Regions from separate parts of the Homo sapiens genome. Here region 1 is linked to region 2. The links come from fine-mapping of genetic effects on gene expression. Tissue or cell type: esophagus muscle. Region 2 holds a variant in brackets; the other region holds the start of a gene. All regions are shown on one strand. Distances are from middle to middle.

Region 1 (9,277 bases), 33 kb before region 2:
AAGAAAAGTGGAAAAAGATGTGGAAGTTCTTACAAGGTAGAACCACATACAAGAAGGTGGATACTACAGATTTTCTAATACAGGCTGGAGGCACACTGGTAAGTGAAGGTGGCAGCAACAGCTAAGACATGAAGAATCCTCCAAGGCTGGCTGGAGGAACCACTGAAAAACTTTACAGAAACTGAATGCCCAGCAAATGACTTGGGGTTGTTGATACTGAAACAGCTGTTGCACAAATGTTCTGCAGAGACTTCTGAATTTGAGTTTATTCCTTAAATCCTTAAAGATAAAAGTAAGCTGGCAGGAAATCCGCATCAATTAATTCAGACCTTTTCATGGAGAAAATAATGAAAACTGTTTATTTATTTATTCAGATGAATGATCACTTTCATGTGGCTGGATTAGTGAGTCATAAGTACTTTTAAGTTTATACTGTGATGGTGTCTTGCAGACAGGAGGTACTCGAAAAATGTTGATGTACCAATATAGGAAGTCTCCTATATCTAAAAGTGGCTTAAGGCTAATGAAAGCCACCACTTAACATGGTTACAAACTGGGATAGCTTTGTCAGATTCAACTCTGTCAAAGGACTTTCAAACACAGCACATGCCACTGTCCCAAAGAATCCCACCTAGCTGATGTATATACTACTGGACATGCTTTTCTCCAGGAAGAAAGCACAACAAAGCACACTCTGCATCCCTGAGAGGAAGCTAGCCCTCCATGTTAGCTAGACTGGCGAGTCCACTCAGATCAACTGCTCCTCAAGTTCACAGTAACAAACTTCATAGGAGAACAGGGAGAATAGGTGGCTTCCTAAAGCTTTGGCTGGGAGATTTCAGATCAGGACAATAGAATAACGGAATCCTAGCTGTAAGAGAACTTAGCAATCACTAGTGCAATCCCATTGACCCCAATCCGTTTTCTAAATGGGTAAAATGAAGCCATCCAGAGTGAGGAAATGACCTGGCCAAGGTCACCCAGGCCTTCTGCCCCCCCAGTACATGTCTTTTCCTACTCCAGCATTTTCCTTTATACTATTCTCAACTTCCACTTTTCTCCAGGAAAAAAAAAGCAGAAATATGTCAACTGGAGGTATATTAGTATTTTAACAGATCACAGAACACTGCCAAAGTCTATATAAAATGAGTTAAACAGCCTGAATTGAATTTCTGGTGTTGTTATTTAAAAAGGTTCTCTGCTAGACTCTCTTACAAGATAAATAATCATTTTCTCCTTAACCATTTTCAAGTACATACTGGTTTTCAGAAATTTCAGAGCTCAGTGGCCTTTGGGAGTGGGGTTGGGGCAGGAGGGTGGTAGCAAAGGCTCTAGTTTTTTTTTTTCCTTCACTTTCTGCAATAGCTAAAAATTCTTGTAACATACCAGTTACCTGGAATTGAATTCCTGCCCAAGCCTGTGAGAAAGAAATAGAATCCCTTTCAGAAATAATGACTCCACAACACCACCTTAAAACAAATTTTGAGTGATTCCACCTGGAAACCTTACTACCTCAGAAGTATTACATTTTGGGAACACTAATGCTAGGCTCAGGCTGCCCTTCTTCTAGACAGTGTGTGTGAAATGATCAGCATAGCTCAACACAGGTTTTCCAGTACAGTCAATGGGTAAATAAAAGGAGTCCCAGTTGCAGCAGCAAAATCATTCAGATGGGAAGGCATCCAGTGATCTAAAAGGACTGGAAGATTCTTTTAAGGACTGGAAATTATTATTATAAGCTGCTCAAGTAAAGCAGCTTCTAACAACCTACACGGAAGGTAGGCAGTGTTTCTAAGTGGATGAATTCATTGCCATAAGCATTTCACCTCAACGTGTGACCTAAGGAGGGATCACCTTGGTGTCTAGACCCTTGTTTGTTCTCAGATATTTCCATTCATGCATTCATTGATAGAGATTTGTAGTAAGAAAGCCATTAACTCTCTCCCAACCACTTAAAAATAGCACCTGTCCATGCAAGAGCTGCAACTGTATTATAATGATTAACTTAAAAATGGGGGTAGGAGGGAAGAGTCTGAAGAAAGGACAGGGGCTGGGCGCAGTGGCTCACGCCTGTAATCCCAGAACTTTGGGAGGCCTAGGCGGGTGGATCATTTGAGGTCAGGAGTTCAAGACCAGCCTGTCCAACATGGCGAAACCCTATCTCCATTAAAAATACAAAAATCAGCCAGGCATGGCGGCAAACGCCTGTAATCCCAGCTATTCAGGAGGCTGAGGCAGGAGAATCGCTTCAACCCGGGAGGCGGAGGTTGCAGTGAGTCGAGATCTTGCCACTGCACTCCAGCCTGGGTGACAGAGTGAGACTCCGTCTCAAAAAAAAAAAAAAAAAAAAAAAAGAAAAAGAAAAAAAAAAGAAAAGAAAAAGGACAGGGGAGATTTTTTATTTATTAGAGACTTAATGAAGACTTATGTATAGGGCTTGGAAGTAAATTAGATAATATCTTTAAGAAATTAACCAGCCTCTTAGGTGCTGTGTGTACCTGACACCCTCACTTCCTATCTCTGGGCCTGTTTCAACCCTAAAATCAGAGGGGAAACGTGCACTCCCTTTCAGTTTAACAAGCAGTCTCTGATTTCCTCCAACTGTGGAGAAATTCTGATTCTAGAAGAGAATGGATGTTAACCACCTAAGCTCTTAGCTAGTCTACCTGAATATTAAATATCCCCTTAACTCATTTCCAATTCCTAATCATGAAGCAATCACTTAAGGCTTGTAGCAACAGATGTCAAACTAAAAAGTTCTTAATTGGTTGACAATAGGCACAGCTTCAGAATTGTTAACTAGAAGTGGTGAAGTCACACGGGAGGAGTTTCCTATAATAAGCCACAAAGAGCAGGGCAATCCGATTTAAATTTAAATATCCACCCCCTTATTTCAAAAGAAACTACCACTAAGAAAATTGATTTCTTTTCTTCCCCCCTCCAGTCACATCGACTGCAAGAGCCATTTCTCAAGACCTGGCCTTGGCCTTATTTCTGCCACATCCTAGAAAAACCCATTCCCACAGCTGCCTGCGAAGCAGCTAGCTCGGTGACCCTCTGCTGATACCGAGGATGCGGGAGCCAGGGAAGTAACTGCCACCTTTCTCTGTCTGAAGGAATAACAGGGTTCCTAGAAGGAGAGAGAAGTTGGAAAAGAGCCGGGTATCTTCATCACTCCCCGCTCCGATTCTTGCTCCTTCAAGGGCCAACAAAACTAACCCACCTCTCCCTGCTCTAAAGTCTAAACCAATAAAACAAGTTGGAAACTGCTGTCCAATCTTTCCAGGCAGCAGGAGTCCTGAAGCCCCCGCCCCCATCCTCCCGGATCTGGGTAGAATCACAGTCAGAGCATGTCAGCGCTGGAGCGGCCTTTGAAATGCGGAGTCCAACTCAGTTCTGCAGAGCCGGGGCGGCGAGGCCCACGGCGGGGAGTGCCCGGGGAGTCCCGACTGGAGCCCAGGGCAGCGGACGGAGAGCTGGGGGCGCCGGGGCCCAGACGCGAGCGGGGGCGGACTCACGCTCTTGTCGATGTCCAGCTTGAGTTTCTTCTGCGAGATGCTCTTCTGGACCCTCTTGCTGAAGGAGGCGTTGCCCGCGGGCCGGACGCAGCGCTCGCCGTCCTCGATGAGGCAGCAGCTCTGGCCGTAGCCCGGGGCGGCGGCAGCTGGGGCGGCGGGGGGCCCTTCGCGGCTGTCCTCCTCCGTGCTGAAGCCGTTCATCTCCCCGCCCCGGGCCGGTCCCTCTGGGGGAGGGTCCCCGGTAGGCCACTCCGCGGCCGCGCTTGCCGCGGGGCAGGTCGCTGAGACCCCCGCAGCCGAGGGTCCCAGAGTCCGTCTCCAGCCCGGGCGCTGCCCTGCCCCGCGTCCGAGAGGCCCGGCTCCCTCGGCCCCCGGCCCTCCGCCTCCGGAAGCCCCCTTCCTCCCGGCTCGAGGCCCCGGGGTCGGCTCCCGCGGCTCGCAGGGCCCCGCCGGGGGTCACCCGGAGGAGCCTTCTGCCGGGGGCCCAGAACCGTAACCCTGCAGCGGGGGTGTCCGGGAGGGCGTCCCAGGAAACAGCCGCTCCCCAAGGACTCCGGGCCTGGGTTGCCAGGGGGTTTCGAAGGCCCCTGCCGGCTCCCGCCTTCTTTCGGCAGCGGGGCAAACTCGCTGCCGGGCAGCTCCCCCGGGGTGGCGCGGCCTCCTCGCGCGGGGCCCGGCCTCGAACCCGCGGCACCCGGGCCCCGCGGCTCGTCCGGCCCACTCCACCCCTGCAGCCACTCGGCTGCGCCCCGAGTCCCGCGGCAGCCCCTGGGCCGCCCGGCCGCCGCCCGCCGAACGCTCCGCACCACAACAGTTCGCTCCCCCCGCCCTTCGCGGGACAGCGGAAGTCCCGCCTTCACGCGACCATTGGTCTCATTTGCTCTCTGGGCGGGGCTGCCGCCGCCGCTGGCGCGTCCCATTGGGCGTCGCCGCCGCCAGTCTCCGGCGCCAGGCTACTTCCTGGACTCTGCTGGGATGGGTTCAAAGTAGAGAAAGTGGAAGAGGAAAGAGTTACCCCAGCGAGAACCGGGAACCGGGCTGCAGACTCTCCGGCCCGGGGGAGGGATGGTGAGCAGGGGCCTGGCTGGACCGAGGGCCAGACTCCAGGAACAGAGGAACACATTCGGGGACAGACAGTAGAGACGCGGACGGGGACGCTGAGGGACAGACTTGGAGGAGGGGCATATGAGGGGACCTAAAGAGGATAGAGGTGCTATCAGGAGAGGGGCGGACTAATAAAATGAAAGGGCCAGGGCCAGAGGACTCGCGGATCCGTGGGAGGAAGGGTGGGTGAAATAGGACGGAAAGCCAGTCATGGCGGGAAAGACAGAGGGACAACCCCATACAGATACGTGGAAAGACATGCGGAGGAGGTGATGGGGGGATCTTGCAAGGCAGTCGCAATATTGGGGGTAGCCGATACCTTCCAGAGTGTGGAGAGTGGGACTGGCTTGGACGGCGCGGAAAGAAAAGGAGAGGGGGAAAGGAGACCCCGAGGGGTTTGGGCGACCCCTCCACTGGGAAGAATGGGAAGTCCGAATGAGGTCTGGAGGGTGGACTAGGTGAGCCGCGGGCAAGAGAAAGGGCTTCAGGGGAGATGAAGTGAAGGCTGGGAGTGGGGCCCAGGGGCCAATCTCGGAATCTAGATGGGGAAGGGCTGCGGTGTCTTGGGCTCTCCCTGGAGCTCCAAGCTGTAGTTCTATTGCTTTGAGTCCCCGGGTCTACCGGCGAAGCGACTGCGCCCTGCCAAGACCCTGCGCTTGGTTTCGGCGCCCAGGGCACCACCTCCCCTCCAGGAGGGGCCGTAGGATATGCTCTGGTCCAGCACTTCAGTCATGCCACTCTCCAACTGCGCAGCATGGGGACTGATGAGGTCCGAAAGGCGATGGGACCAGCCCAGGGTCGTGTAATTATGTAGGGCTGGGCAGCGTTTTATGGGCAGGGAAGAGGGGAGGCTGTGTTAGGTGATAGGTAAGCAAGTGTTAGTACTAGAGGGCATAGAAGGAGCTTCGGGTTTGTGTCCTGTTGTAAAAGGGAAAGCTACCAGTTTCCATGTTTAGAAGCAGGTGGCTGGTGATCTTAAGTTTTGCTCAGTGGCCATAAATGCATTTGTAGCATCTGAACTGGTAATTTCACACGTGGGACAGCCATCGTCGGAAATAGGCCTATCAGAGATAATATGAAGTACAGTGATGTTCATTATGGAATTATTTATAATAGGAAAAATAAAATAGAACCTCAGAGTTCCAAAAGGGAAGTGGTTAAGTAAACTACCTAAAATCTTCAGAAAGAGATTGTGCAGTTAGCATTTGAGGTAGTTTCAACATCAATGTAAACATTTTCTATAGAGAATAATTCACCATTAATTCTTAAATAAAGAGCTGATGAGGAGTTGGAGAAATGCTTTTTTTATGATAAGTAAAAAAATTCAGGATATGAAATTGCATGGAGGATACGATGTCTGTACATCTATGTTTAAAGAAAAAAGAAAACTATTGGTATAAAAAATGCACCAAAGTACTAACAGTGATTATTTCTGGGTAGCAGGAATATGGCTGATATTTTTCTCCTTTTGTTTAACCTTTGCATTTTCTTTAATAAGCATTATTTTTGTTTTTACAGTAGAAAAAATAGAATAAAAATTAATGGAAAAAAGGCACAGATTAATAGGAGTCTTCCCTCAGAGTTCATATATTCTGTTCAAAAGTAAATTGTTGTTGAACTCATTATGTATACCAAGTATAGGGTTGGCTATAGGAGGAGGATGAAACATAACCCTTGCCCTAAAAGAATATCTCCTATCTGGGGTGTTCAGACATATATGTAGAAAACACTTGGGTATCTGTACCAGGCACTGTGTGATGTTGGGTCCAAAGTCAGTTGGTATGGATGAAACCTCCATGTTCCCCATATTTTTCTAAACAGCATTTGTATTCAATGCTAGGCTATTGCGGTACACAACTTCTTCTGCACCAACTTGCCCTGGTCTAAGGGGATCTAGGACCTTTTCTTAGGTGCTCTGTCTCAGTCCTTGAGGTAGTGGCTACTTATATCTGCTATTCTTGTATTATTTAGCATTCTTTTTTCTTTTTACTAGGCAGTTCCTTATAACTGTAGGGGACTACAGTCCCCTATTATAATTAATACATGTTTATATTATTATTTTCCTGTTCAAATTACTGTAAGGTTACTCTTTCCTGATTACACCCAGCCTGATACGCCCAGCCAGCCTCTGTGTGTGTGTGTGTGTGTGGTGGTGGTGGTGGGGGAGTTCATGCTTGTAACTGTTCTTTTTTTTTCTTTTTTCTTTTTTCTTTTGAGACAGAGTTTCACTCTGGTTGCCCAGGCTGGAGTGCAATGGCGCGATCTCGGCTCACCGCAACCTCTGCCTCCCGGATTCAAGCGATTCTCCTGCTTCAGCCTCCCGAGTAGCTGGGATTACAGGCATGTACCACTGCTCCCGGCTAATCTTGTATTTTTAGTAGAGATGGGGTTTCTCCATGTTGGTCCGGCTGGTCTCGGACTCCCAACCTCAGGTGATCTGCCCGCCTCGGCCTCCCAAAGTGCTGGGATTACGGGTGTGAGCCACCGCTCCCAGCCATTCTTTATGTATAATTTTGTAGTCTTTATTCAAGGCATACTTTATCATAATCTTTCCCCATATTGCTATGTAGTTTTCACAGTTGCCATTTTTTATGTAGTACAGTGCAGTTTCTGTAGTACAGTACACTGTGGTGCTAAAGACAGTTGGCTTTGCTGTCAGAACTGGGTTCAGATCTGGACTCCACCCATGACTTGTTATAACATGTTAGCAATTATTTCACTTCTTGAGTCTGATGAAATAGGTGGTGACAAATTCTTAACACAGTGCCTAGAACATCATAAGTGGTTAATAAATGTCAGCTATCATGATTCCTACCGTAGTTACATTTGCCCCCCCAGAAGTTGGATATCTTTTTTGTGTGGTTCTGTATAATTATTTTTGAACATAAAACTTTTTATTATTTAGGATTATTATTTTTTCTGAGTGCCAGAGATGGAATTGTGGTCAAAGACTACAAAGTTTTCCAAGGTCTAAGGGCCAGGCTCACTGACCCTTTTTTTCTTTCCTGTCTTTTCTGCCCCTGCCCTCCCCACCTTCATTCCTTCCATCCAGTCAGGCCCCAGTTGAGAAGTTATCCCCCAACACGCCTTAAAGAATCAGAGTTGGATACCTTGGCCAAGCAGTCACAGTCCTACAAAAGCTCTTTGCTCTCCTCTTTCTCTCCTCTTTTCCCTTTTTGGGGAATGTGGCATATGGCTCTGGGAGTGATTTCCAATGACTGCCCTTCTTTGGGAACAGGTGGACACTTAGGTGTCCAGTGACTGGGTTTCTAATCCTTGAGTGGCCCCTGATTGTCTAATAGTGAATACTTGCTGGGTTAAGCCTGTGGCTCAAACTGTACTGGTCAGTTTCTCTCCAGCAAATCTGCTGGTTGGAACTGACAGGTGGTTGGTGGGAGTGGTTAGAGCAGAGGCACTAATGGTGGGTCCTGCCTCCTGTGTTCCCCAGGGCCTGGTAGTTGAGCTTGCCCTTGGGTTCTGTAAGGTACTCATAGATATGTTGGCATGAACCAAAAGTATCTGAGACAGGTCTCAATTTAGAAGGTTTATATTGCCAAGGCTAAGGACGTGCACGTGACACAGCCTCAGGAGGTCCTGACTACATGTGCCCAAGGTGGTTGGGATACAGCTTGCTTTTATACATTTTAGGGAGACATGAGACATCAGTCAATATGTACAAGATGTACATTGGTTCCATCTGGAAAGGCAGGACAACTTGATGCTGGGGCTTCCAGGTCATAGATAGATAAGAGACAAATGGTTGCATTCTTTTGAGTCTTTGCTCAGCGTTTCACTGAATATACAATTTACATGTGGGGAAGGGGTGAGGTGGGTGGTAGAGGAATAGTCATTTATGCCTTTGTCTCAGTGGATCTGCATTTTTACATAAACAACAGGGCAGAAGAAGCAATCAGATATTCATTTGTCTCAGGTGAGCAGAGGGATGACTTTGAGTTCTGTCCTTTGTCCCACACCTATGAAGATAAGCTATCCATTTACATTGCCAGGGTGAAATTCAACAGAACTGTTTTAGGGTAAAGATCTTGATGCCCACAAGGAATTTCCTTGTGGGCAAATTGTGAGGGAGGTCTGTAGCTTTTTTATCTTTGTAGCTATCTAACTTAGGAATAAAATAAGAGGTAGGTTTGCCTGATGCAGTTTCCAGCTTGACTCTTCCCTTTGCCTTAGTGATTTTGGTGTCCCGAGATTCATTTTCCTTTCACATTGTTCTGAGACTGGAAGTTCTGCAAGGACAGGGAACTGTCTCTATGGCTCATCATAGTTTCCAGTGCCCAGGCACTTGATTAATATTTGTTGAATGGATGGATAGATGGATGATGGATGACTTGGCCTCTGGAATCAAGAGGCAGTACAGCATAATGGTTGGTATAAATCTAGATGTAGTCAGCTTATGCTGGAATCCTGGCTCTGCCACTGACTAGCCTGGGAACCTTGGGAAAATTACATGGCCTTAGTCTGCCATGGTTTCCTCATCTGTAAAATGGGGATGATAGTAACCTCTCGGGATTGTTGTGAAGACTGTCTGAGTTATTAGATATAAACCAACTATTAGATATAAAAGTGCCTTGCACATATTAGGTACTCAATAAATATTAGATACTATTATTGGCTTAATTAGTCATAATTAGGTTTAG
Region 2 (10,860 bases):
CAGGTTGGTTACAGAAATGCTTCCTATTAGTCTGGAGGCCCTCTAGGAGTCTGACATGTAATTAACAAAGCAAAAGGTAAACATGAAGGGCTGGCATGGAGCTGGGTGTATATCTGGCTGTGGGACGTCGGGTTCTTTTCTCCACTGCAAATGAGACTACAGTTGTGATGATGGTGGGAGGTTCCAGGGGTGCAGGTCTTCACCAAGGACCATGTTGTACCACAGCCTCTGCTGAGCTGAGGGACACATGTCCCCCTGCTTTCCCAACACCACCAACTTTGGATTTCACAGATTGTCTCTAGGCTGGGGGCTGCCTTGACTGTATTACACCTGGCTGGCTCCTTTAATCACAGCATTCTAGAAATCCATATTGGATGTGGAATACCAGAATCCTATGTAGCATCCTAGTTTGCAATCCAATTATAGAGTTCTTTAAAAATTCTGGAGTTCTGTATGAGAACTAGAACCATGATGAGGTCAGAGGCAGGCACTTTGCCCACAGTTGATCCTGGAGGCCTCCAGACTCTGTGAGGTGAGCACCTCGCAGCACCTCTGTTCCTCTTTTGAGGCCAGTAATTGCCTGGGGAAGAGAGACAGGGAAATGGAAGCATGGATCAGGGCAAATCAGCCAGCATTTCTAGTTTGGAGGTCTACCTGGCCTTTTCCGTGGGCTCAGGGCCATCTGAAACACTGCCCTGTAAAGCTGGTGCTGGGCTGTCCTTGTGCCTGGAGAGTGCTAAAATTGACATTTCAAATACCCAGAGAGCAGGGGGAGATATCCCGCATGTCCATAGCTGCAAAGAAATGTCTAGGGGGGCTCCCTCTTCTGACTCCTCACCTGGCAGCTGATCAGCATTCAATACTGAACACTCTTAGGGCCCCAAGTATGGCCTTTGACCGGACCAAATCACCTGGGGTTGTGACAGAGAACAGAAGCTGTGCAGTAACTGCAATGTTCCCCCCAGGACGGCAGAAACTAAAAAGCCCCAAGAGGACTTCTTTCTCTTCTGCTGCAGATGAGTGGCATCGATACTAAAAGCTGCCCCAAACAGGCAAATTTTACCTTTGTTTCTAAAGCACCATCATGTAGGAGAGCCATCTGAGGGCTGGGCAACCTCGCAGGACTCACTTTTGGGTGGCCTAGGCTACCTTGGTGTTCTCCCACATAATGTTCAAGGGGACATAGTGACAAAGTTGAAAAGGCTCTGTTGCTTTTCCGTGATGTCAGCAGGGATTAAAGCAGTCTCTGCTCCCTGTGGGGCCTCTTGTGGGATATGCTCTTCACCCTACCCCCACAACTCAGGGGCTCAAGGACCAGGCAGACCCCAGCCCCTGAATCAAGAGCCCTCTTCACCCTGAACCATTTGGCCAGCACCTTTTACACCTAGTGCCCACAGGGGCCCTGCCTCCCTTGAAAGAGGAAGTCTGCAGTGAGTGCCAGACCCTGGGGGGCCTGCCAAGGGGACATGAGGGCTCAGTTCCTATTGAATTTTTCCAAGACTGTTGAGTTGGTGTGTTCAAACAGCCACTGCTGGGTGAGAGAGGATGGGTTGCAGGTGTTCATGAAGATCCTATGGTCACTTTCACTGCAGTCCATGCAGCTGCCACTGACAGGGTGGTACAGGGTCTTGTCCTACAAAACATGGAGGTAATAAGCCAGACAGCACTGGAGACATGTGGCCAGTCAAACCACAGCAACAATACCAGCAATGAGAAAGTGAGGAAGTGACTGACTGACTAGCTGTTCATACACCTGTTGGTTTTCCTCCTGAGCTCACAAGCCGGATGCTGCCCAGCCTCCCTTGCAGCTGGTATTGCCGTGGGACTGGGTTCTGCCCGCTGGGATGTGGCCAGAAGTGATGCACGCAGCTTCCAGGCCTGGGACCTAGACACTGCCCACCTCCTGTCAGACCTCACTGGTCCTTATCGTGTGTGTGTGTGTGTGTGTGTGTGTGTGTGTGTGTGTATGTGCTTTCCTTTTATCTTTTATTTTTTTAATTTTTTTAATTTTTTTGAGACAGGTTCTCACTCTGTCACCCAGGCTGGAGTGTAGTGGCACAATCTTGGCTCACTGCAACCTCTGCCTCTCAGGTTCAAGTGCTTCTCCTGCCTCGGCCTCCCGAGTAGCTGGGAGTACAGGCATGAGCCACCATGTCTGGCTGATTTTTGTATAGAGACGGGGTTTCACCATGTTGGCCAGGCTAGTCTCGAACTCCTGACCTCAGGTGATCCACCCACCTCAGCCTCCCAAAGTGCTGGGATTACAGGCATGAGCCACTGTGCCCGGCTGCACTTTTCTTTTTAAATGGAATCAGTTGCCAACATTTAAGACTTGAGGATTTCACAGTGAAGTCTAGATTTCTGACTACTCTTGAATGACTACAAAATCCGGCATGGTAGGTTTGTGGCACAAATGAATAAGTGGATGGGCTCTGTTGAAAGAAGGGGTGAAGCACTGTATTGCCTTAAAAAAAAATTAAGCAGGTGCCCTGCTCCCCCCGCATCCCATCTTACTTTGCGGTATTTCCACAGCTGGTTGCCCTTCATGCTGTGGCAGTCGTACAGCGTGACAGGGCTGGTGTGGGAAATGGCATCAAAGCAGAACTTCTTGGTGTGCTGGGGGTCTCCAGGCCGGATGTCCTCTCTCCAGGTGAAGGTGAATACCTGTGCACAGGGGCATCATAAATAGGGATAGCAAAGCCAAGGACTTTCTTTTTTTCTCCATTTTTTTTAAATTATGGAAAAATTTAAACTCAGAGGTCCAAATAATAATATATTAACCTGTTCTAACCACCTAGCTTTAAAAGTTACTAACTTGGCCAGGTGCGGTGGCTCACCCAGCAGTTTGGGAGGCCAAGGTGGGTGGATCACTTTGAGGCCAGGAGCTTGAGAACAGGCTGGCTAACGTGGTGAAACCCCGTCTCTACTAAAAATACAAAGATTAGCTGGGTGTGGTGGCGTATGCCTGTAATTCCACCTACTCGGGAGGCTGAGGCAATGAGAATCACTTGAGCCCAGGAGGCAGACGTTGCAGTGAGCCGAGACTGCACCACTGCCCTCCAGCATGGGGGACAGAGTGAGACTCTGTCTCAAAAAAAAAAATAAGTTACCAACTCAAGGCCAACGTTGTTGCAGCTCTACTTCCACCCCTATCCTTACCCTCACAGTATTTTGAAGCAAATCTCAGCTATCATATCATGTCAGGTATAAACACTTCAGTAAGTGCCATTATAACATCTAAAAGTAGTTACTACAAGGTCCAAAATGTCATCAAATATCCACAGTTCAAGTGTTCTTGGGATTCTTTTTTTTGTTTGTTTTTTGAGACGGAGCTTCACTCTTGTTGTCCATGCTGGAGTGCAATGGTGCAATCTTGGCTCACTGCAACCTCCACCTCCTGGGTTCAACCAATTCTCCTGCCTCAGCTTCCCAAGTAGCTGGGATTACAGGTGTGTGCCACCACGCCTGGCTAATTTTGTAGTTTTAGTAGAGAAGGGGTTTCACCACGTTGGTCAGGCTGGTCTTGGACTCCTAACCTCAGGTGATCTGCCAACCTTGGCCTCCCAAACTGCTGGGATTACAGGCGTGAGCCACCGTGCCTGCTCAGGATTCTTATCAATTTCTTTTCACAGTTAGTCTGAGTCAAGATCCATTTGGTTGATAACCTTTGTTACTTTTCAGTAGCTTTACTGAATAATAACTGGCATACAATAAACTGCACACATTTAAAGTGTACAATTTGATACATCTTGACATATGTTTACACCGAGAAACCATCATCATAATCAAGGTAATGAACATACCATTACCCCGCAAAAGTGTCCTCATGCTCCTCTGTAATCTCCTCCTCCTGTCCCCACCAACCCCCATGTCCTTAGGTCAGCCACTGATCTGCTTTCTGTTTCTAGAGATTAGTTTGCAATTTCTAGAATTTTCTATAAAGGAATCATACAGTATGTATTCTCTTTTGTGTCATTCTTTCACTCAACATAATTTTGTTGAGAATCATCTATGTCCTAACAGCATTTATCAATAATTCATCGCTTGTTATTGCTGAATTTGCACTCCAGTTCCTTGTTACAGGACATCTTGGTGGTTTCCAGTTTTTGGCTATTACAAATAAACCTGCTATGAACATTAGTGTACAAGTCTTTGTATGGACACATGTTTTCTTTCTCTTGGATAAATACCTAGGAGTGGGATGACTGGTTCAATGGTCAACTTTCTAAGAAACTGCCACAGTTTCCCAAAGTGGCTCTGCCATTTACACTCCCACCAGCAGCATACAGGTCCAGTTCATCCACATCTTTGCCAATCTTCAGTGTGGTCAGTCTTTTTAATAGGTGTGTGCTGGAATTTCCTTGTAATTGCAAGTTCTATTTCTCTATTAACTAATGAAATTCAGCATTTTAAATATGTTTATTTGCCATTCATATATTTTTTTTGGTAAAGTATCTGCCCGCTTTAAAATTAAAAAAATTATTGACTTTTGAGAGTTTGAGAGGATACAAGTCCTTTCATTTATATATTCTAGATACAAGTCCTTTATCAGATATATGCTTTACAAACATTTTCTTCCCATCTGTGGATTGCTTTTTATTCATTTTGAATTAGTCCAGTTTTTCAATTTTTTCTTTTATGGATTGTGTTTTTGTTGTTGTATCTAAAATATAATTGTTTATCCCAATGTCACTCCACCCAGGCTGCAGTGCATGGCACAATCACTGTAACCTCGAACACCTGGCTTCAAGCAAGCCTCCCCTAAGCTTCCCACACTGTTGGGATTGCAGGCATGAGCCCACTATTGTCTGAGCAGTGGCTCTTCCTGCAGGCTGGCTTACCCTCTGCATCCCACCCATCCTGCAGGTGAGGCTGACCATGCCCCTAGGCTCCAAGAGTCAAGGTAATGAACACACCCATCACCTCTCAAAAGTGACGGCTCTGTCCTCATCAATATGAGGACTTCCTCACTTCCTGCATAATCAGCTCAGGGACACAATTCATGGGAGCCCCAGGGCTTTTCCAGAACTCTTGGAAGTGGCATGCCTATCCATGGGGCTGCTGATGGCCACATCTGCTACTATATAGGAAGGGCCAGGTTGAGAATGAGGCCCGCAGAGAGGGAAGCACTCTCTTGAGAGATCCAGCAACATCATCAAGGCTTTTCAGGGACATGAGACAATAACGCACTTTTTGTTGAAGGCCATTTGGGCTGAGTGTCCATCATTTGTAACCAAAATGGTCCAGACTGATGGTTTTATTGCAATGTGAAGGAATCCCCTTTCCACGGTGTTCAGGAAGATCTTAAAACTCATCCCCGGGGCTGACTCTTGTCATTTATCACTGACCCATGCCTCTCCCTCCCAGCTGGCCGTGTCAGCACCCCAGGCTGCAGATGTTTCAGAGAACCTGGCTGCCAGTCCCTGAGGGGCGGCCCTTACCTGCATGTTGTTCCAGGCAGCCTCCCCACGGCCTCGGACGCAGCCCTCTAGCCTTAGTGGGGAGCCCAAGGCCCCGTGCTTTGTGTCTGCACACAGCCCTGTGCCCACATTTCGGATCTGAAAGGGAAAGAGGGAAGAAGTGGACCACTGAGGTGCCTTAAGGTGCCCACCGGGTCCCTGCCAGGTGAAAGGGGAAACCAAGTGGGAGACATTAGCTGGATTAACCTTCAAATCGTCTTGATAAAGCTTGCCCTGGGCTGTTGGAAGTACCTTGAGCCTCTCAATGAAGGAAGACTCAGTCCACAGAATGTAATCCTTAAAGCACTGCTGTAAGTAGTATTGTAGAGTATGCAGAGTCCTGGGTTGGTGGTGGGGGAGTGGAGGTGAGGAGTTGGTAAAGGACTCCCTGGCCCTACTCCTGGAGAAATTGAACCGACAGGTCCAGGAACCAGATTTTACCCCCATTCCAGGTGACTCAGGTGCAGGTGGTCCAGGGACCATACCTTGAAAGCGCCTAGAAAAGGACATGAAACCTTTGCTGTATGTCATGGACTGTCTCTGTCCCTTAGGACAGGTGAATGGCAAGAGGTGGCAGGAGGCCCCCTCACCCCCTGCTGAGATCCAAAGAACAATAGTTGCCTCTTCCCCTTCAACCATGAAGACGGGTGTGGTGGGAAGAGCACTGGGCTAGGAGTCTGAAGCCCTAGGCTGCTCACTTGCTTAGCCAACAAATACCGATTGGGCACTTACTGTGGGCAGGCCATTGTGCTAGGTGCATAGCGTCACATCATGTAGTTCCAACCTTACAGATATCAATCCTACTTTATCTGAGGGATAGGGGGCTGTGGTGGCTATGAAAATGCACCACCCAATTTCCTGTTGCAGAGAGTCTCATTGCACCCAGATCCTGTATTCTGAATCCACCACTGTGTCCACCCATGGATGGATCCCAGCCAATGGGTGAGGCAGACCCACTCTTGCGAGATGTTGAACTCCTCTGGCTGGTGATTTGGCTTGGGGACTCTTCATCAACCTGGCCAAAGCTTCCTTACAGCTT[T/A]ACTGCAGTCTGGACTCTTCCTATCCCGGCTCTCCTTCCTTCCCTCACCCCTTCACAGATGTAAGACCACTGTTGTGGTCTCATGGCTCTCCTAGTCTCCCCAGGTGTCTTCATTTTTCCTCTCAAGTGTTTTAACCATAAATCTCTTGCGTGTCTAATCCCACTGTGGCATCTGCTTCTTGGAGGACTTGAACTAACACAAGTGAGGAAGCCAACAAACTAGTAAAGAGCCAAAGAGCCTCATGAGGGAAGTCCACACAGCAGTGCTCCTGCAAACTGGAGGTGATGTTGGGGTAGGCTAGCCAGGCAGCTGAGCCAGGCAAGGGCTCTGTGACTGCTGTGTGAATTTGAGCAAATCACAGCTGGTGTTCCTGCCAGCCCACCATGCCTCTCCCCTTCCTCTGGTAACACCACCCTGACTTTCCATGGGGCTACTGCTCCTCACGCGCCCTGTGGCCAGCCGTAGTGTCCATCCTACCCTTGCTTTTCGTCTTCCCCGATGGCCCCAGTGATGGGTGCAGGATCCAAGAATAAGACTTGATTCCTGCACCTTTACTGGTATACTGGGAAAGAGGCATATACTTTCTGCTGGGTTGGCCAAGCAGTAGGGGTTGGTCAGCCTGAAGCTTCTGGAAGCCATTTTGATACCTTCAGCATGAGGCCAACACAAAAGGAACATGAGTTCAGCAGGAGAAGAAGAGACTGACATCATTTGAAGCCCTGGATCCAGGTTGTCTTAAGCCATAGCTACCCCAGGCTCATATGTGAGTCAAACACAATATATTCCCCCCATTTTTTTTTACTTTAAATTGGTCTTCTGAAAGAGCCCCAACTCTTATGCTCCCCTTTTCCAAGCTCCAACCTATCCATCAATGAATGGGTAGGTCCTCTCAGCTCAGAGACCCAGGATCCCATGGTGGCATGCTCGTCTGCTTGCAAAGACTGGTCTGCCTCGGCCAGCATGGGCCTCACGGGCCACACCATGCGCAGTTCACAGGTCCCCATGCTCAGGAGGGCCTGGCTTGATTTAAAGCTCTGCTGCCACTGTCTTGAAATTCTGAATAATTTTATCTTTGAACTGTTTTGTAAGTGAAATCTGATGGGACACTGGAGCGTGTGCATGAGCAGAGAAGCACGCTGTTCCTCTCTGCCCTGTCTGCATGCAGCATGTGCGAAGACACTGAATAAATAGGGGCGCTGGGGGTCCCAGAGGCCCTGCTTTCCCTTCAAACCGGAACTCGCTCTGGGTGTGCTAAGAAGGGCAACAGCATCCTAAGAAGCAGGAACGACCAACAAGTCCTGTCATGTTCTTTCTTACTTGCGTTACTGCCCCGTGTTAGCCAAGAACTTATGAAGGAAAGGGAAAGATAGGGCAACCCTTAGTTCCTTTTCTTTTTCGAGGCAGGGTCTTGCTCTGTCACCAGGCTGGAGTGCAGTGGCACGAGCACAGCTCACTGGAACCTCGACCTCCTGGGCTCAAGCAGTTCTCCTGCCTCAGCCTCCCAAGTTGCTGCAACTACAGGCACATACCATTACGCCTGGCTAATTTTTTCTTTTTTTTTTTTTTTTTTGTAGAGACAGGGTCTTCCTATGTTTCCCATAGGAAAATGTTGTCAAACTCCTGAGCTCAAGTCATCCTCCTGCTTTGGCCTCCCAAAGTGCTAGGATTACAGGCCTGAGCCACTGTGCCTGGCTCCTTAGTTCCTTTGCCTTCCAGCCCTTTCTTACTCATCAGTAAATGGAAGGTGGAGAGTGTTGGAAGAATATGCACATTATCAAGAAGTGAAGTAAAAAGCTGAGTTTGTTGTGTGCCATGTTTAGATTGTTCTGGTGAGAAATACTTATGCATGCAGCAGGTGGGAAATACAGATCATGTCATTTCACCCATTCTGAACATGAGTTACATGCTGTTAATCTGAATTTTAAATTGTCACTGCATAATATAAAGATGAAAGGTAAAATTCATGCTAATAACTTAAAGTTTTAATTTTTCTACACTGAGAACACTAACTAACAAGTAAAAATACACCATGACAAGGCTAGAGAGAGACCAGGAAAGAAAGGAAACGATTTTATATTCACGCCTTTCCTCCCTGCACTGACTTTCTACCTTTTGAACATGGGATCTGCATTTGCATTTTGCACACCCATTAAATTATGGAGCCAGCCCTGCCCTCCAGACTCACCTCCCCCCAAGCTGCAGCCGGGGGCTCCACGGGTGGGTAGAATTTGGGCAGGTCCCAGGCTATCTTCGTCATAAACCACTTGAAACTCTTGCAGTTAAGGGAGCTGCGGAGCTTTTTCTGGACTGCGACATCCCCAGCGGAGAGGTGGCGGTATTCAGGCCGGCGCTGGTAAATGTACTCTGCGTACTCATCCATCCACACTTCGGCCACCCGCTTAAGGTTCTATGGGGCAAGAAGCAATGGAGGGGTCAGTCTTTCCAAGAAGCCAAAGCCAGGCAGTGGGGTGAAAAGGGTCCTGGCAGGTCGAGGTCAACCCTTCTTATTTTATGTTCCATCAAAAATCCCAGCCCCACCGTGAGTTTAGGCCTTCTGTGTTTCTATTTATCATTATGCATGTTTTAAGGGCTTCACAGCTTATAGTTGGCCCATAGGCTGCTGTTGTTTTGCCTGCCCATCTTCCATCCCATCTTCTTCTAGCGATAGCCCCCACTGATTTTCCTCTGGGGAGCCACCCTGTCTCCCTGTCAGCTCATGTGGCAGGAGGAAAGGCATGGACCCAGCCTAGCTAATGTGAATACAGGCGCCCCCGGTGCAGGGGCTGGTCAAACAGCAGACCCATTCCCTAAGCCCCACCAATCACAACCAACAGGCATCAGCCTTGGGATTTTTGCAGGAACTATTGGAAGAATCGTTCTGTTTCTGCTTGGATTGCTGGGTAAGACAGGATGCCAGCCAGAGCTGCTGGGCCATATGGCCTCCAAGGAGAGACAAGGAGAGCCTGTCCAAGGATGAAATCAACCCAGAATGAAGCAGAGCGGAGGGCTGGATCCAGGAATGCATTCCGCCTTTTAACACCAGAATCCAGCCATGTCTGAAGCTAGAGCTACCTTGGACTTTCCAGTTACAGAAGCCTGTATATTCTTTCTTCGCTAAGCCAATTTGATTTGGCTTTTTGTCATTTTCAACTGAGAGTTTTGACCAAGCTATGTGATAAAGGCAAATTATAATTTGAAACCAAAAGGTGTAATTCCATCAGCAGCTGGAATTTCTAATAATCCTTTGAGGTGCAAAGGTTGCTGCTACTTTCATCATGAAGCACAAAGATAATCAGTTTTAAAAAATGACAGCCACATGATTGGCAAGCAGAGGCAGCAGGTGAGGAAAGTGTTTGTGAGTAGACTTGGGGACAGAGGAAGAGGGAATTCTTATGTATGTGATGAAAATTCCTGATTCCATCTGCAGTGTAGACCCCACCCAGTGAGAACTTCTGATATGTGATATATCTGAGAGCAAAACTTCAGGGTTCAGGGGAAATTCTCCGCTCCAAAACATCTTTCTTCAACCCCTGGCTGTTGTCCCCCCACCCCAATTTTAACTCTTCGGTTTTACCTCCTTCGTAAGTTTTTTCCCTATTGCAATCTAAAATTTCCTCTGAAAGGTTAAAGGGGAGTTAGCAGTTTAAGCTGTTATCAGTCATTTGCACCTCAGTGTGAAGGATTGCTCTAGGAGCAGAAGGTCAGGCAGGGGTCCCAAATGTTTAAATGTCTTCTATAAAGAGCCGGATAGTAAATACTTAGGCTTTGCAGACCATATGGTCTCACCTCTGATGTAGCTATAAAGCAGCCATAGACACCATATAAATGGTGTGGCTGGGTTCCAGTAAAACTTATGGATACTGAAATTTGATTTTCATGTATCACAAAATATTCTTCTTTTGATTCCCATTCCCTCTAATGATTTAAAAATGTAAAAACCATTCTTAGGTCACAGGCCATACAAAAACAGGCTGCTGACTCTGGAGTAATGGAGAAGGAAGCCAACATGAGGGAGGCCCCCGCACTGAAGACAAAATTCACCAGTTCCCCCATTTTGCTGGCTCTGAGTTGGGGACCAGGAAACAGCTGAATTTCCTTGTTGCTACCTAGTTCTTCCTGAGTGCTGAAGAGTCCACAGTGGGTTAGAAAACAGCTCAGGAACAGTGTTTATCCCCACCAGGCCCCTGCACAGAAAAGGCTGTGTTTAATTTAAAACTGTGCTAGAGGAAGTTGAAGGCCTAACAGAGACTGTCTACATGAACACTCTGAAACACAATATTTCCTCTGCTTTTTCCAGTATGTCCACCAGGCTCTTTTGGCTCACTGTCTAACCTGCTCGAGTCACAGAGGTAATGAGGGTA

Evidence for each region. PIP is the estimated chance that this variant, and not a neighbour inherited with it, causes the effect.
Region 1: it holds the start of SAP30L, and the variant in region 2 is fine-mapped to the expression of SAP30L in esophagus muscle (GTEx, PIP 0.95).

Annotation. Positions count from the first base shown.
Region 1 is chr5:154,441,047-154,450,323 of GRCh38, reverse strand. It overlaps SAP30L (SAP30 like), which reads right to left and starts at 4,327. Exons shown (of 4, transcript NM_024632.6): 1 at 3,519-4,327. The coding sequence starts at 3,719. SAP30L-AS1 (SAP30L and GALNT10 antisense RNA 1) reads left to right here and starts at 4,502. Exons shown (of 3, transcript NR_037897.1): 1 at 4,502-4,586; 2 at 6,844-6,962. RefSeq lists silencers at 3,684-3,793, 3,924-4,453 and enhancers at 4,030-4,530, 4,584-4,703.
Region 2 is chr5:154,407,587-154,418,446 of GRCh38, reverse strand. GALNT10 (polypeptide N-acetylgalactosaminyltransferase 10) reads right to left here. Exons shown (of 12, transcript NM_198321.4): 9 at 8,685-8,906; 10 at 5,442-5,558; 11 at 2,515-2,664; 12 at 1-1,633. The coding sequence ends at 1,475. All of the region lies in intron 2 of SAP30L-AS1 (SAP30L and GALNT10 antisense RNA 1), which reads left to right. Among named protein-coding and RNA genes, the nearest start is that of SAP30L-AS1, 33 kb to the left of the region's middle. RefSeq lists an enhancer at 7,563-8,063. The variant T/A (reference allele first, on the strand shown) is at 6,499.